Linked DNA regions of Homo sapiens: region 2 is linked to region 1. The links come from fine-mapping of genetic effects on gene expression. Tissue or cell type: testis. Region 1 holds a variant in brackets; the other region holds the start of a gene. All regions are shown on one strand. Distances are between the middles of the regions.

Evidence for each region. PIP is the estimated chance that this variant, and not a neighbour inherited with it, causes the effect.
Region 2: KIAA0753 starts here. The variant in region 1 is fine-mapped to the expression of KIAA0753 in testis (GTEx, PIP 0.99).

Annotation. Positions count from the first base shown.
Region 1 is chr17:6,575,836-6,583,938 of GRCh38, forward strand. It overlaps KIAA0753, which reads right to left. Exons shown (of 19, transcript NM_014804.3): 19 at 2,312-4,029. The coding sequence ends at 3,912. Among named protein-coding and RNA genes, the nearest start is that of PITPNM3, 23 kb to the left of the region's middle. The variant G/T (reference allele first, on the strand shown) is at 4,751.
Region 2 is chr17:6,636,229-6,644,331 of GRCh38, forward strand. It overlaps KIAA0753, which reads right to left and starts at 4,483. Exons shown (of 19, transcript NM_014804.3): 1 at 4,409-4,483. It overlaps TXNDC17 (thioredoxin domain containing 17), which reads left to right and starts at 4,832. Exons shown (of 4, transcript NM_032731.4): 1 at 4,832-4,999; 2 at 5,525-5,606; 3 at 6,021-6,096; 4 at 6,723-8,103. The coding sequence starts at 4,855. The coding sequence ends at 6,791. It overlaps MED31 (mediator complex subunit 31), which reads right to left. Exons shown (of 4, transcript NM_016060.3): 4 at 7,083-8,103. LOC122526780 reads right to left here and starts at 4,088. Exons shown (of 1, transcript NM_001396008.1): 1 at 552-4,088. The coding sequence starts at 4,088. The coding sequence ends at 552. RefSeq lists enhancers at 533-1,315, 1,316-2,097, 3,042-3,111, 4,010-4,891, 5,022-5,291 and 1 more.

The DNA.
Region 1 (8,103 bases):
CTCAAGGGGAGTAGCCAGCTGTGACAAGGTGGGGGGCTGGAAGGCAGCCTTAGTGGTGGGAACGGATGGACCTAACTCCAGGCCACAGGCAGAAGTCCAGTTGGATGGATGGAAAGCGAGCCAGGGAAAATAGTAAAAGCCTGCAGGTCTGGTTCAAGGAAAGGATTTCCAGGTATATGAGGTCAAGAACAGCCAAGGGGACTCTAGGGAAAGCAGCAAATAAAGGATAAAGGGGTCATCTGGGAAGGCAGGTGCAGGCTTGGGGAGAAGACTGGGGAAGGTGGAGCAAGGTCCTGGACAGGCTGGCAAGAGGGGAACCCAGCACTGGAGCTGAACCGGGAGGGGAGCCCTGACTCCGGAAGCCAGCTGTGCACTCCAGGTCGGGGAATGATCCTGCTGGGTCTGTTGCCTGAGTTCACTTGGGCCTGACAACCAGCCCAGGGTCCCTATCTGGGATTTCCTGGGGCCCTTACTGAGGACTGATAGGAAGTACACAGGATGTCAGGTGGAAGCCCCTCCAATCCAGGCCCACGTTATTGGACTCAGTCAACATGCCAGTGTGGAAACAGATCTGAGATCTCGGCTCCTGAACTAATGGAGCTCAGTGGGGCAAGGCCACTGCCCTTCTGCTGCTCTTCAAGAGCCCAGAGAACCAGGAGCCCTTTCACAGGCTGGCCCCTCCCAAAGGTCACTTCTGTGGTGATCATAAGCCCATGATGATGTGGACACCCCTGAATTTACAGGCTCTGCAGGGAATTCTCACTACTGTCTCACGTTGCTAAAATAAAGAGAGCTCCTCTCAGAAACACAGAAGCGTGATGGAAACCTACACTGTCACAGAGAGCACAGGGGACTTTCTGACTTGGACCCTTCCTCTTGCTGTTGGCCCTGGGGCTTCCCTCAGGCCCTTCCTTCTGCCTTTCAGACCCACTGGCCACAGTGCAGTTCATGCCTCCACCTCCCCCACTCCCCCAACACACACACACACAAACACACTCGGACCACCTTCAGGAAAGCAGGAACCGTGAGCCCAGGGAGGAAGTGGAGTGAGGAAAGCGCTTCTCTCCTCACCATCTCTCCTCCAAACCCCAGCTCCGGCGGGCAGAGGGAGAAGGGACCACAGTGCTGAAATAGTAACAGAACACAAGAGGCAAGGGGCTCCCATGCACATCCTTCTGTCTTCTTCTCCAGTCCCTGGGCCGCCCCAGCTTAGTCCCCAGGAGCACCCTGACCAAGGCTCGCTCAAGGTCAGGAGCAGCATGAGGCTGAGGCCCATGCCCTGCTCTAGGAGGAAGGAAGCAAGTTCTTGCCATCTGAGCTGGAATTGCAATGGCAGCAGTACCTCCAAGATGGAATTATAGTTCTCAAATGGCATTCTATCTCGGGGTCACAAAAGGACATCATAGATTTCTGTGGACTATATGAGATGTGACAGACCCCCCCGTATAAAGTCAATCAGCCTGCCCTTCACCTTTCATTAATTCAGAAGAATTTACTGAGCACCAACTACAAGCTAGGCAGGGTCCCTGCCCTCAAGGAGCTAAACAGACTAGAGGTAAGCACAGAAACAGACAGAAATCCCGTGTGACCAAGCTGTGCCGGTGGAGCGCTCGGAGTGCATTTTCATGTCTCTGTACACTGGGGACGGCGTATGCAACACAAAAACACTGAACTCGTGTGTTTCTGCTTCTGAAATAGTACACGAATAGTTCGTGAGAAAGCTGAAGGGAATTACAGAATGATGTACGGTCAGCCCTTGTTCATGAAGAACAAAAAATTCTAGATGTCTGGGCTGGCTGCGAGGCGATAAACGGGAACTTTTATATTCTAAGGATTTAGCTTCCATTTGCAAAGAAAAATGTTTATTTCTTGCAGTATATTTTTGTGTCTTTGGAGAATGCTCTGGCTGTGGATGTTTGCGATGGGCCAGGGATATAAAGTTGACACCTGGACACTGGGGCTGGTTGAAGCTCCACCCACATGAGTCAGAGAAAGGCAGATCCACCTGGTGGGAGGAGCAGGAGAGAGTGGGAAGATCCTGAAACAAGGCAAAGCCTGGGCTCGGCCTTTCAGGACACAAGCTGCAACAGGAAGTGTGAGAATGGGACTGCCCCAGCACACGCCGAGTGGGGATAGGGAAAGGCAGGAAGATGAGCTCAGGTAAACTCCAAGTTTGTTTGGTCAAATTATCTCCTCCTGTGCCTCGTTTTATTCATCTATACAATGGGAACAATGATGCTCTCCACCTCACAGAGATGAGGTGAGGATTAAATAAGTTACTACATGGCAAGCACGGAGAGCAATGCTCTAGTAGGTGCTCAATAAATGTTAGCTTTTATTGTCACTAATTTTTTTCTCGGGGGGAAGGGGTGGCAAATAATCCACTATAGTCATATCACATATAAAAGTATTCTCAGTGGTTTCTGTAAATCACATTTCACTTTGCCTGTGGGAAAAAAAGGAGATGTAAGTTATTTAAAATAGGCACATACTTTAAAATATTGGGTTTATTTTAAAAACTCAGCACAGTACAAACTGCCACACAAATTACTTTATACTAGCAACAACCGGTGCTCCTATTAATTCAAGTGTACACATTTAACTCCCCAGGTTAAACACCCTGTAATTTACCTTGAAGCTCTTTACATTCTGAAGTTATATAAAATTAAGCAGGAAAACATTAACATTAAATGAAAATCAATTTTGCACAAATAAGTGTGATCAAGCAGCTTAAATCACCTGAAATTCTTGTACTTCAGAGAAAAATCCCAGATGACGGCACTGGACAGGTTATAAAGAGTTCCCTTATTCCCTGGGGGCGTCTCAGGCATTCTTTCTGCATGTTTCCTTCACTGAGCCTCAGGCTACGAATTGAGAGAAAGTCTTTCCAGGCAGTGGCCTGATTCTTACGCACATTCCGTTTCTTTTTCTGAATTCAGAGTTTCTGAAAACACAGGCTTTTCTCTTGGAAAACATGATCTGTAAGATGTTGGAGGACCAGGCTATGATGGTTCTTAAGTTTCTTCCTTTCTCTGGGGAGACACAGAGGTCTTCGCGCCATCCATCTGTTCCCTACTCCCACTTGGGTTCCTTTGTGGTATGAAATAGAGACACTTCTGACCTCATCGGAGACACAGCGAGGTCTGTACCTTCACCCAGGCACAGGAGAAGGCCTGGTCCTCTCCTGATTCCTCAAACTTCCTCTGAATCCAGAGAAAGTTTTTTATACCAGATTGTGTCAACACACAGCAATAAAATATGCTGAGGAACTAAAAATGTGAAAATCACCTAGGAATGGAACGTTGAAGAAATGTGTGTCTATTATTGTGCACTGACAGCCAGGGGGCTCCTGTTTGGAATAAACTGCAGCAGAGGAGAGGTTTGGCAGCACAGCCAGACTGTGCTCTCCCTGAGTCTACAGCCTAGTAGGGCCAGAGGTCCTGACAGGAAATCGCCAAAGATGCAAAACAGGGGCCCCGTGATGGGACCAGCTAGTAGCCGCACTTGTGTTGGTATCAATGCCAGCAAGGGTTCAACAGCAACCTGAATCCTTGTGTGAAATATACGTATCGATTATCTTTCAAAACATTTTCATCACCAAACTGAGCCAGAGGAATGAACATGGTATTTCAATAGGAAAAGTACACATTCTGAAAATATTGCCATAATCAAGTTGTGTTGCCTGGGCACTGATAAGTGTGATACATTGCATCATACATTTCCAGAACCATTGCCATGACAAAAGAAAATGCAAAGTGAGGATGACCTCCCCGGCACTGCCTTCCTTTCAGTGGGCAGCACCTTCTGGGCCTGGATGGACAGCTGAGGATGAAAATTTCCTGTGGGCCAAAACAAAGGGTGGTGCCATCCCTTCTCCAGTGTGACACAAATGGCCTCGCCTCAGAGAGCCTTTATGTAGCAGCCTCTAAGAATTCTGAGGTGAACACAGCTTCTGCATAATCTTCGCACATATCCTGAAGTTCAGCAGCCACAGCACCCAGAGCTTCATCTACCAGCTCTTCTGAAAAGCTGGAAGACAAACAACACAACTAAAGGTATGTACAAGGCCAGGCGCGGTGGCTCACACCTGTCATCCCAGCACTTTGGGAGGCCAAGATGGACAGATCACCTGAGGTCAGGAGTTTGAGACCAGCCTGGCCAACATGGTGAAACCCGGTCTCTACTAAAAATACATAAAATTAGCCGGGCGTGGTGGCATGCACACCTATAAACCCTGTTACTCAGGAGGCTGAGGCAGGAGAATCGCTTGAACCTGGGAGGTGGAGATTGCAGTGAGCAGAGATCACACCACTGCACTCCAGCCTGGGCAACAGAGTGAGATTCCGTCTCAAAATAAATAAAATAAAATAAAGGTATGTACAGCCATATATGGGAGCCATTCTTTTACTCAGCTGTGGAAATTAACAAGTCAATTCTGAAATCTAAATGGAAATTCAGAAGGCCAAGAACAGCCAAGATACTTTTTTTTTTTTTTTTGAGACGGAGTCTCGCTCTGTTGCCCAGGCTGGAGTGCAGTGGCACCATCTCGGCTCACTGCAAGCTCCGCCTCCCGGGTTCACACCATTCTCCTGCCTCAGCCTCCTGAGTAGCTGGGACTACAGGAGCCCGCCACCACGCCTGGCTAATTTTTTGTATTTTTTTAGTAGAGATGGGGTTTCACCATGTTAGCCAGGATGGTCTCAATCTCCTGACCTCGTGATCCGCCTGCCTTGGCCTCCCAAAGTGCTGG[G/T]ATTACAGGCATGAGCCACTGTGCCCGGCCAAGATACTTTTGAAGAAGAAAAACAAGGTGAGAGGCCCTGCTCTCCTAGACAGAAGGATGGTGGTGCTTAGATCCCAAAGTCCTGCTAGAGGGACAGGCCTAAAACATACACAGGATGGACTTCATCCTCAATGTGTTTGAAACCAGAGGCGACCAGAAACTAACCAGCTGCAACCTAGCCCCACCTCTAACAGCTGCCTGACCGGCCGACGGAGGAAGGGGTGTGCCTTCTCTGTAGGAGACGGGGGAGGACACTAGGGGACTCTGCACGGGTGCTCCTCTGTACACACACACACACACACACACACACACACACCTTCATTTTCTGAACGGCGCAAGCTTCGTATCTCCCAAGTAGCCCTACAAACAAGGACATTCTCTTAAATAACTATGGTACAATTATAACAATTATAAAATTAACATTGATACAAAACTAGTATCTATTCTACAGGCCTATCTATCTACAGGCCTTATTCAAATTTTGCCAACCATCCAAATAATTTCCTTCAAAAGAAATTTTTTGCTAGTCCAAGGTTCCAGTCTGGGATTCCATGTCGCATTTTGTTGTCACAGCTCTTTAGTCTACTGTAATCTAATAGTCCTTCAGTCTTTCTTTGCCTCTCATGACCTTAACATTTTTTAAAGAATAAAAGCCTTTTTTTGGGGGGGTGGGGAGAATATCCCTCAATTTGGGTTTTTTCCTTATGATCAGATTCAGGACATACGGTTTTGAAAGAGATGCCACAGAAGGATAGTGTGTCCCTTCAGTGCACCATGATATCTATTTGATATCCATTAATGATGTCAGTTAATTTTGCATCACTGGGTTACGGTGATGTCTGCCAGGTTTCTCCCTTGTAAAGTTACTGTTTTCCCCTTTGTAATTAATAGGTATAGTGGAGGGAGATACTTTGAGACTATGTAAACTCCTGTTTCTCATGAAATTCGCCTAAATCAATTATTACAGGGTTGCCAAACACGGATTTTCTACTTCCATCACTTCTTCTCCATTTAATAGCTGGCATTCTACTGTAATGAAAGCTTTCCCTTGTCTTTTACTTATGTATTCATTCCTATCAGTTTGGCCTTATAGATTTTTATTTTATTGTATAGTTTGTAATCCATTACTATTATTACATATTTCGATGCTTGAAAATGTCCTGGATTTGGCCCGTAGGTGCCTCTTGGGAACTCCTGTGAACTCTCGACATGTCCCCATCTTTCTTTGAGCACTTCCTTTCTAGCACAGTATGTCTGAGGCTTATCTTACATTTTTCCAGCCCCAGGCTTATAGTCAGCCATTCTTCCAAGAAGCCCTCGTGCCTCTTCATCTGGTGCCTCTTCATGGAGAACGGTATTTAGAAACCAAGATGTGGGTACTGGGTGTGCTCACTGCTACTGGCACCTCTGCTTCTGGGCCTTCTCAGCAGACAAACTAAGAAACACCCTGTATCTATTTCTACGTCTATAAAAAACCATATATTCATCCCAGCCTTCCCCTAGAAACCTTGCTCCCATTATTCACAATGTACTTACTTATTTGACCAATCCTAAAATATAGAGAAAATAGTTTTCAACTGTTAACCCATGTCACTGTATAAAAGAAACCTACAAACTAGAATCCAGTTATGTGTTTACAGTTCTTTTTGTCTTTAGCCAGAGGTAAAGAGTCAACATACTGTGTTCAAAAGTTATTTAGGCTTCATGCCGTTAATATGATTATATTATTTATTTGAAATACAGTTAAGTTCATGTTTCTGTTTGTATTCGACTTAAGGCCCCCGCCCCATCCCTGTTGACTAAGGGGATGTATAAGAAACATTAACATGGTTTCAAAAGTCAGAGTTACACAAAAATGGTAAATGCAGATAAGTTTCACTCCCCCTCTCCTATTCCTTCTACCCCATTCCCACCCAGTTTTTGTTTTTTCGCTAATCTGACAATCTTTTGTCTTTTAATTGGCATGTAAGGTCCTTTTTCATTTAATGTTATTCTGATTTGAGTTTATGCTTCTAAAATAATAGGCATTTTCTATATTTGTCTCTTTGTTCTCTCTTCTTTCTTGGTTTCCTTTAGATTTTGTAATTTTTAAACTACATTTGCTCTTCTCTATTGACTTGGACATTACACACACTTTTATGATTCTTTAAGTGGCCACCCTGGATTACAACAAGTATCCATGACTTGACGTCTAACATTAATTGATATTCTTACCTTTTTTCCCATACAATGCAAGAACCTTAGAATACGAACTCTATTCCCTTCCTGACTTATATTCTTACATACTATTGTTACTGTATATTTTAAACGTGTGAGTACACATACACACGCATCCATAAAACATCAGTATTGTTTCATACAGCCAATATTCACTTTAACCTACCTATTTACCTATTTTTAAAATTCATGCCTCCCTATATTTCTGACCTTCCATCTGTGACTGTTTTCTTTCTTCCCCCAAAATACCCTTTTTAATATTTCCTACAGTGAAGGTCTACTGCTAATTCAGCTTTGTTAAGAAACTCTTTTCTCACCTTGCCTTTTGATGTATCTTTCACTGGGCTTAGAACTCCAGACTGGTAGTTCTTTTCGTTTGGAATTTTAAAAGATGCCAGGTCTTCCAGTTTCCACTGTTTTTGTTTATCTTGATTTTTCTTCCTCCAGCCGATTTTAAGATTTTCTCTATCTGTGATTTTTCAGCAATATTGAGTATGGATTTCTTTTTATTTTCCTTGCTTGGGGTTTTTGGAGCTTCTTGAATCTACGGCTTGATGTCTTTTGCTACTCTGGGGAAGTGATGGCCATTATCTCTTGGGATGTTGTTTGTGACTCGTTTTCTCTCTCTCCTGACCTGAGATTCCAACAACACGTTAGACCTTCTTACCTCCTCTATGTCCCTTTCCCTCTCTTCTTCACTTTTCGTCTTTTTTTGTGTGTCTCCGGGAATCACTCTGGATATTTTCTTCTGTCCTATGTTCCAAGTCTCTAATATTTTCTTCTGTTGTGTCTAATTTGCTATTGAGCCCAACCAATGAATTCTTCATTTCAGAAACTTTATCTTTCATTCTAGAATGTCCATTTGGATTTTGTTTAGTTCCCAGTTCTATGCCAAAGTTCTAATTCATGTCTTTTATTTCTATGAATGCACTAGGCACAGTTATTTTAATGTCTGTGTCTGATAGCTCTAATGTTTGTATCTGCCGTAGGTCTGTTCTTGGTATTGTCTTGTCCCTCTGTTGCCTGGTTATTTTTCACCATATACTAGACAATGTATTCAACAGTCGTAGAAATAAATTGATTTCTAAGATGATGTTATTTTCCTC
Region 2 (8,103 bases), 60 kb after region 1:
AGTCCTTATTTCTAAGGCTGTAGCACACATGAAAAAAGCAGATGGGAGGAGGCACATGAGCAAGGCAATCCCAACTGGCTTGACGTTGGCACAGGTGGGTGGCTGGAGTTGCAGAATGAAGGCTGCAGAAATGGGGCCCGGAGATCTGCCACTTTTAAATGGTCAGTACTTCCCTCCTGGCTGCTTCTAGGTGCCAAGGGCCAAATAGTCCATTCTCCACTAGAAAAAAACTAGGTGATCCCCACAGTTCCAGCATGCCTCAAGTGATGCTACACACACACATACACACACACGCACAAAGTCCAGGGACACCCACCCCTAAACTGTCCCCCTGTACAAAGTTCTGGGACTCTCCTTGCAATCTGGCCCTTTCCCACTGCTCCAGGAAACGTCCCAATTTGTCCCTCTACATACCCTGGGGCATCTCCACGAAAACCCTCTCTCCCCCATGCTGAGATGCCCTTACAGCCAGTGCCTTCATCCGCAACCCATGACAAACCTACCCCGAACCTGTTCCCTCCCACACAGCCCCAACTTCTTCCCTACACACACTACTGGAACGCCCCCCTCAATCTAGCCTCCCCCACATAACTCTCTCCCAAATTGCTCCCTCTCACTCTGACTGCAGACACTCCTCCAGCCAGCCTCCTCCCACTTGGCTGTAGGTGGTCTCTGAAATGGCCAAGGCCTATTTCCTCCCTTGAAACTGAGGGTACCCCCACAGCTGTTCTTGTCCCTGACATGCCTAGAGCATTCTCATAGGCTGTTTCTTCCCCCAAAGACCTTGGACAGCTCCATAACCTGGCCCCAGGCACACAGGTGTGAGATGTCCCCACAGCCTGGCTGCCCCCGGCCAGTCCCAAAATATTCCCACCTCCTGTCTCATCCTCTGAAGCCCCCACTCCCCCTGTGGACTGTCTCCTCAGCACGGTCAGACCTGAGACACCCACGTCCGCTTCTGCTCCTGAGGACCCAGTCACCCACACCGCAGCAGGCGCACGCCCTGCCATGGGAGCTCCTACAGCTGCAAGCACCCCCAGAGGCAGAGGCACCCTCCCGGCCTCGGGAATGGCTCCACCGTGTCTCCTTCTCCACAGGCCTGAGACACCTTCAGAGCCTGTCTCCCCCTCCACAGGTCCAGGAACCCTGGCAGCTGTGGGCCCCTCAGTGGCCAGTCTCCTTCCCCATATGCCTGAGCCGTCATCCCCAGAGCCCGTATCCCCTACCATTGGCCCTGGAAGCCCGGGAGCTGTGGGCACTCCCACGGCCATGGAACCTCTAGCAGCCACAGGCCTCCCAGCAGTCTGCCTTCTTCCAGACAGGCCAGAGACATGCTCAAAGATGGTCCCCTCCCCCACAGACCCCAGCAGCCCCACAGCCATGGACACTCCTGTAGTCTGTCTGCCTCCCAACAAACCTGAGACACCCCCAGAGCCAGTCTTCTCCGCCATGGGCCCAGGCATCCTGGTCGAGGTGGGCACCTCCATCCTTGTGGGACCCTTGGCATCTGCAGGTCCGCCCACTGTCTCTCTTTCACCCCACAATTCTGAGCCAGTTTCCTCTTGCACAGGCCTAGGCACCCTGGGAGCCACGGGCACCCCACTAGCTGCAGACAGCCCCACAGTGCCAGGCATTCCTGCAGTTTGCTGCCTCCCTGACAAGCCTGAAAAGCCTCCATCACCAGGCTCCAGCTCCACAGAACCAGGCACCCTAGGAGCCAGAAGGACTTCGGTGGCCACAGGAGCCCTGACCCTCTGTCTCTGTCCCCAGGGTCTTGGGATACCCCCAGAGTCAGTCTCCCCCCCAAGCCCAGGCCCCTCAGGCACCACAGGAACCCCAATAGTCTGTCTCCTCCCCCATGGGCCCGGGAAGGCCCCAGAACCACAATCCTCCCCGCCAGACCACAGCTTCTCCCGAGCCACGTGTCCCCCTGAAGCCACGGATTCCTCCCCGCCTGACCACAGCTCCTCCTGAGCCACGGGTCCCCCTGAAGCCACGGATTCCTCCCCGCCAGACCACAGCTCCTCCCGAGCCACGGGTCCCCCCGAAGCCACAGATATTCTGGCAGCCCGAGTCCTTTCCCACAGGTTCAAAATGTCTCTAGAGCTGCCTTCCTGACACACAGGACCAGACGCCCACACAGCAGCAGGCACTCTGGCAGGCACCTTTCCAGAGCCGGGCACACCCATTGCCATGAGGACCCCTGCTGCGGCACACCCCTGCCGGGGCACATCTGCTGCCCTGGGTATGCCCACCGTCTCAGACACCCCCACAGCCTGCCTCCTCCCACACTGACATGCAACATCTCCACAGCCAGCCTCCTGATCCACTGACCCAGGGACCCCTAAAGCTGGAGGCCCCAGACTCTCTGGCTCCCCCACAGCCTGCCTCCTTTCCCACGGGCTCAGAACATTCCCACTACAGGTCTCCTCTCCAAGCCCAGGCACTGCCTCGGCTGGGGGCCCCCCAAGAGCTTGCTGTCCGTCCCACAGGCCCAGGCCCCCGCTGTGGCTCAGCTCTTCTCCCAGGGCTCCAGGTACCACCACAGCCTGGGGCACCCTTACCATCTGTCCCGCTCCCCACAGCCCTGGGACACTCACACAGCCCGTGTCCTTCCCCAAGGCCCTGGGTACCCCTGTAGCCTGTTGTATCCCCCACAGGCCTGGGGCACCCCCAGAACCTGCTGCCTGCTCCCCAGGACATGATGACTCTGCAGTCTGCGCAGCTCCCCGTGACCCTGGATCACCCCCAGAGCCTGTCTCCACCCACACAGGCTGTCCCCTTTCCCTGAACCCTGGGTCACCTCCACATCTAGTTTCCTCTTCAGCAGCACAGGGCACCCCAACAGAGTATCCTGTGCCCCACGGGCCGGGCATACCCACAGAGTCTGTCTCCTCCACAGCCTGTCTCCTGTAACACACACCTGCGGCACCCACAGAAGTAGGCTCCTCCTCCACAGCATCGGACACCCCCACAGCCTGTCCCCTCCCCCATACGCCAGGGGTGGCCCCACAGACTGCTTCATGTGTCAGAGCCCCAGGAATCTGCGGGGACTGTCCTCTCCCCCACAGACCTGCAGCACCGCCACAGCCGAGCTCTCCCTCCATGGCTCTGGGCGCTCCCACAGCCCCAGTCCACCCCACGGTCCCAGGCTCGCCCATAGTCTGTTCTTTTTCACAAGGGCCTGAGACAAACCCATAGCCTATCTCCTCCCCAGTCTCAGGAACCCCCACAGCTTCTCCCCTCCACAGGTGCGGGGCCATTTCAGAACTTGACGCCAAAGCCCCAGGCACACTCGCAGGAGGCACCCTCCCAGCCTGTCCCTGTCCACAGAAGCCTAAGGCTCTCTCGTAAGCTGCCCCTAAGCCCAGAGCTGTGGGCCCTGAGGGGGCCCGAGGGATCCCCCTTGCCTGTTCCTTCACCCAGGGCCCTGTAAGACCGCCGCGGCTTGTCTCTACCCAGGAAGCTCGGCCAGGAACACCCCTTTCGACAGGTCCCTCTCCTGCAGGCACGGGATGGAGCTCGACTCTACTTCCTTCCCCACATCCCGAGGCGGCCCTCATAGCCTGCACCTTCAGCCACAGGTGCAGAATGCTCTCATGGCCCAGAGATCCCGGGCGACCTTTTCTCTCGCAGCCCCGGGGACTTCTATCTTCGGTCTCCTCCTCCCCAGACCCGGTCACCCACACAGCCCCGGCAAGCCCCACCACCTCGGGCTCCCCCACAGCCCCGTTCACCCACACAGCCCCAGGGTCCCTTGCAGCCTCGATGGAGCCTGGGGTCCCAGGAGCTCCCAAAGCCTCATTCGCCCCGGCGGCGTCGGCTGTCTCCGCCGCTTGTCTCGTCCCCCATGGCCGCTGACGGCCCTGTGGCCTTTCTGCACTCACACAGCGCGTCTCCCACTCCGAGGGCTTCGCCCGGCGCCTTGCTCCACGGCCTCGGGACGTCCCTGCGCCCCGTCTCTTCCCCCACGGCCGCCGAACCCCCCGCCCCGACCTGCTGGGCCCCACGCAGCGACCCGGCATCTTAGCCGCCTGCTCTCCCCGGCGCAGCCTGGGCAAGGCCCCACGGCGAGTCTCCCGGCTCATAGCTCCAGGGCAGTTCCCTTCCTCCCTACCGCGGCCCTGGGGGATGTCTTAGCACCTCGCTCCCTAAGCTGCTCCACACACGCACTCACACACTCCGCTCCGGCCTTGCAGCCTTTCTCCCTCCGAGCCCCTCACCCATCCCACCCCCGCCCAGTCTCGGGAACCCGCCCCCAGTCCCAGGCCCCCGTAAAGCCTAGACGGCAGAAAAGGTAACTGGGGGGACAAAGCAACAAAGGCTTTCCGAGTCAGATCTCCTCTCCCCCAAGTCCATGACTCTATGCGGCTTCCCAGAATCCCCCCCAGCCCCGGCCCGAGCCCACCTGGCCTAGGGTGAGGCGCGGCTACTGGGAGGCGGGCAACGGGGGCCCCCAACAAGGCCGCGCTTCCGGCCGCCTGCCCAGTCGCCATAGCAACAGGCGCAGGGCGGCTTGGGAGCCTTTGAGGCCCTGAACTATTTAAGGATCCAGGTGTTGCAAGGCGGTAAGTTTTGCAGCCAGTGTCCATGAGGTCGGGGCTGGGACTAGATTAGGGTAGATCTAAGCCTGGGCTTGGGAGTGCAGCTAGCGCAGAAAGATCTGAGGAACTAGAGCAAAAAGCCATGCGGATGGATTGTGGTCGTCAGAGGCTCCCGTAGTCTTTAGCGGCGCTGGCTTCCGCAGGCTCCGCCCTCTCTTGCCCACCCGGAAACAGCCTCGCCCCGCCTACGCGGGACCCAACCGCGGCGACCGGACGTGCACTCCTCCAGTAGCGGCTGCACGTCGTGCCAATGGCCCGCTATGAGGAGGTGAGCGTGTCCGGCTTCGAGGAGTTCCACCGGGCCGTGGAACAGCACAATGGCAAGACCATTTTCGCCTACTTTACGGGTTCTAAGGACGCCGGGGGGAAAAGCTGGTGCCCCGACTGCGTGCAGGGTGAGGCCGGGATTCGGGGGCTGCTGTCCAATGGAAATGGCAGGAAGGTCGAGCCTACGGCCAGAAGGGGGGCTTAGCGGAGGCAGAGTCTTGGTTCCAGACATCCGCGGAGCAATCTGAGCTGTCCCCAAGTCTCCTTCTATTAAATCCTACCCCGCCCTGCCAAGAGCGCTCTTCCTTTTACCACCTTACCCGGATGATCTTGGAATCTAGTTCCTTAAAACTTCTCACTCCCCCAGTACCATTAGTGTCTTACAGGATACGTGAGTTGGTCAGCAAATACATGTGCTTTCCATTGTTACGGGCGCGGTGGTGCAGGGGCAAATCGGGACTGGGATTTGGTCCTTACCCTTAACGTGGCTCTAAGACCAGAAGGGAACACCTGACTTGTGTTGACCTCTTCAGTTAGCTGCAGGTTAAAGTCTGAGTGCTTACCAAGACTGGGGGAAGGGGGAAAGAACACAGTTTATACGTGCCTGATTGTAGAGTTGACGTGCGATTATTTTATCTCAACTTTTTTTAAAGCTGAACCAGTCGTACGAGAGGGGCTGAAGCACATTAGTGAAGGATGTGTGTTCATCTACTGCCAAGTAGGAGAAAAGCCTTAGTAAGTGGCAATGTATAATCTACCTCGCAGACGTGCACAAATTGCATACTTAGGCGGGAAGGGCCTCAGGGACTTACTTACCCAGTTTGTCTTACAAGGTAATGTCTGACAAGTTAAACAATTAGAAGCTATTAAATACAAATTTAAAATGCCCACCTGAATTAAGTAAGGGTAATTCAACGAATTTGGTCTGGTGTAAGCCCAGAACTTAGCTGGCTTTACTTTTATATCTTAGTCACACTTTGAAACTTTGCACAGGGTAATTAGTAGATTAAGCCATAGTCCGCAAGGTTTTTTAAGTGTTTGCAAGAACAGTGATTACTAAAAAATTAAATGTAGGACTATGTCAAATATTAAGCAAACTGTAATAAACCAAGTAAATTTTTTTCATGATCACTTTTTCTTTTCGAATAGTTGGAAAGATCCAAATAATGACTTCAGAAAAAACTTGAAAGTAACAGCAGTGCCTACACTACTTAAGTATGGAACAGTAAGTATCTTTAAATATGCTGGGCCTGTAATTCACTGTCAGAACTCTTTTAACTTGCTGTGGATCCAGATTTGAAAAGATCTTGACATTTCATCTCAATTCCATTGTTGTTCAGAGTGCTGCTGAAAGTCCATTCCTATGGCCAATCCCAATAAACTGATAATGTAAATATCTAGCTATTAGGTCTTTTTCATGTTAAGTCACTCTTAAAAAACCAGAAAGTAGGTTGACTCATAATTCCTTAAAACATTTGCATCAACAGTTGTTTTCTGTTTAATTCATAATTCTGGTTAAAAAGTAAGGGCATCTCTTCTAGTTCAGTCATGCCCCTGGGATCCTAAATTAAAGAGTTGAGGGGAAGAAGAGGGCACTGGGCTTGCTGTCTCCTGTTTTAGTCTGTGGAGCTTCCTGGTATTTGGGGTTTAAGTCTCTTGAGCCAAGTATGTTAGTGATTCATCTTACAGCAAATATATTGATTCTTTCATAAAACTTGTTATAACTAGATGATAGTTTCTGAATTGCGTAATTTCTGTGTTCAAAGATGAGTGTCATTCAAGGCAGAACTCATTCCACTCCTAATAACGTTTTATAGAAGTAGTGAAGATTTGACTGTTTTTCTCTTACAGCCTCAAAAACTGGTAGAATCTGAGTGTCTTCAGGCCAACCTGGTGGAAATGTTGTTCTCTGAAGATTAAGATTTTAGGATGGCAATCATGTCTTGATGTCCTGATTTGTTCTAGTATCAATAAACTGTATACTTGCTTTGAATTCATGTTAGCAATAAATGATGTTAAAAAAACTGGCATGTGTCTAAACAATAGAGTGCTATTAAAATGCCCATGAACCTTTAGTTTGCCTGTAATACATGGATATTTTTAAGATATAAAGAAGTCTTCAGAAATAGCAGTAAAGGCTCAAAGGAACGTATTCTTGAAGGTGACGGAAATACCTAAAAACTCCTAAAGGTGCAGAGCACACCTTCCAAATCTCTCAAAAGATCAGTATCTTTTATTTTAAGTTATCTCCATCTGCAAAGCAACTGATGATATTCCTGAAACCCCTTCTTTGATTTTGGAATGTAGAACCTAACCTCACCACTGAAGGAAAGCACATGACCTCTAATCTAGCCTCTGCTTAATTCAGGCAGTTTTGTTTTGTTTAATAAAAAACAGACTCCTGAGCACTAGAAGCAGTTTGTTTTGCAGCTGTCTCAATGTGCTTTACTTGGGATGAGGCAGGTGGCGGAGAGCGGCCGGAAAGACTCTATAACCCAGTTCTGGGAAGAACTCCAAGCTGGGAGTCAGTCACACTGACTCTACCACTTACTAGCTGTGTAACCACAGGCAAGTTACTCACCCCGTCCAAACCTCAGTTTTCTCTTCTATAAACAAGGTTCTTAGAATAAAATGAGAATTCAAGGAAGCACTTAACATAGCACCTGGTTTGTGGTACCTCCCAAATCAATGGTAGCTTTCCCAAATGAACACAAGTATTTGAGGCTCCTCATGTTTGTTCTAAAGTCAAGAGTCCAGTTAGTAACTAACCACTAGTTGTCCTGCCATGACTAGGTCAAGTGAGGCCACAGTGATTCAGTGATTCTTAAAGCCACCTTGCAAAGCAGGTAATACAGTTATTTCCTGTCCTGCAGAATTCAAGAACCTTTATGCAGTTCCTGTCCTATGATTTAAAGAGGTCAGTGACTCCGCTACTCTCACTACATCTTAGAGTAGAGTGGTAGAGTAGTTGATCTGAGACAGTAAGGTTCCAGGAGATGGTCTTGCCCTACTATATGTCAGGAACAGCTAGCCTTAGAATTCAGTATACTTGGTGGCCCACCCCTACCCCATGCCCCAGTGCCTTATTTGGTCTAAAGCACCTAACTTTTCCATTCTTAATCAGCTGATTATGCTAAATGCGTAAAAAAGAAAAACACCTTACAAATCCACAGGGAAATCAAAGAACAATTCAGGTTTAACAGAAATAGTCTATTAACAATAAAAAGTTGGA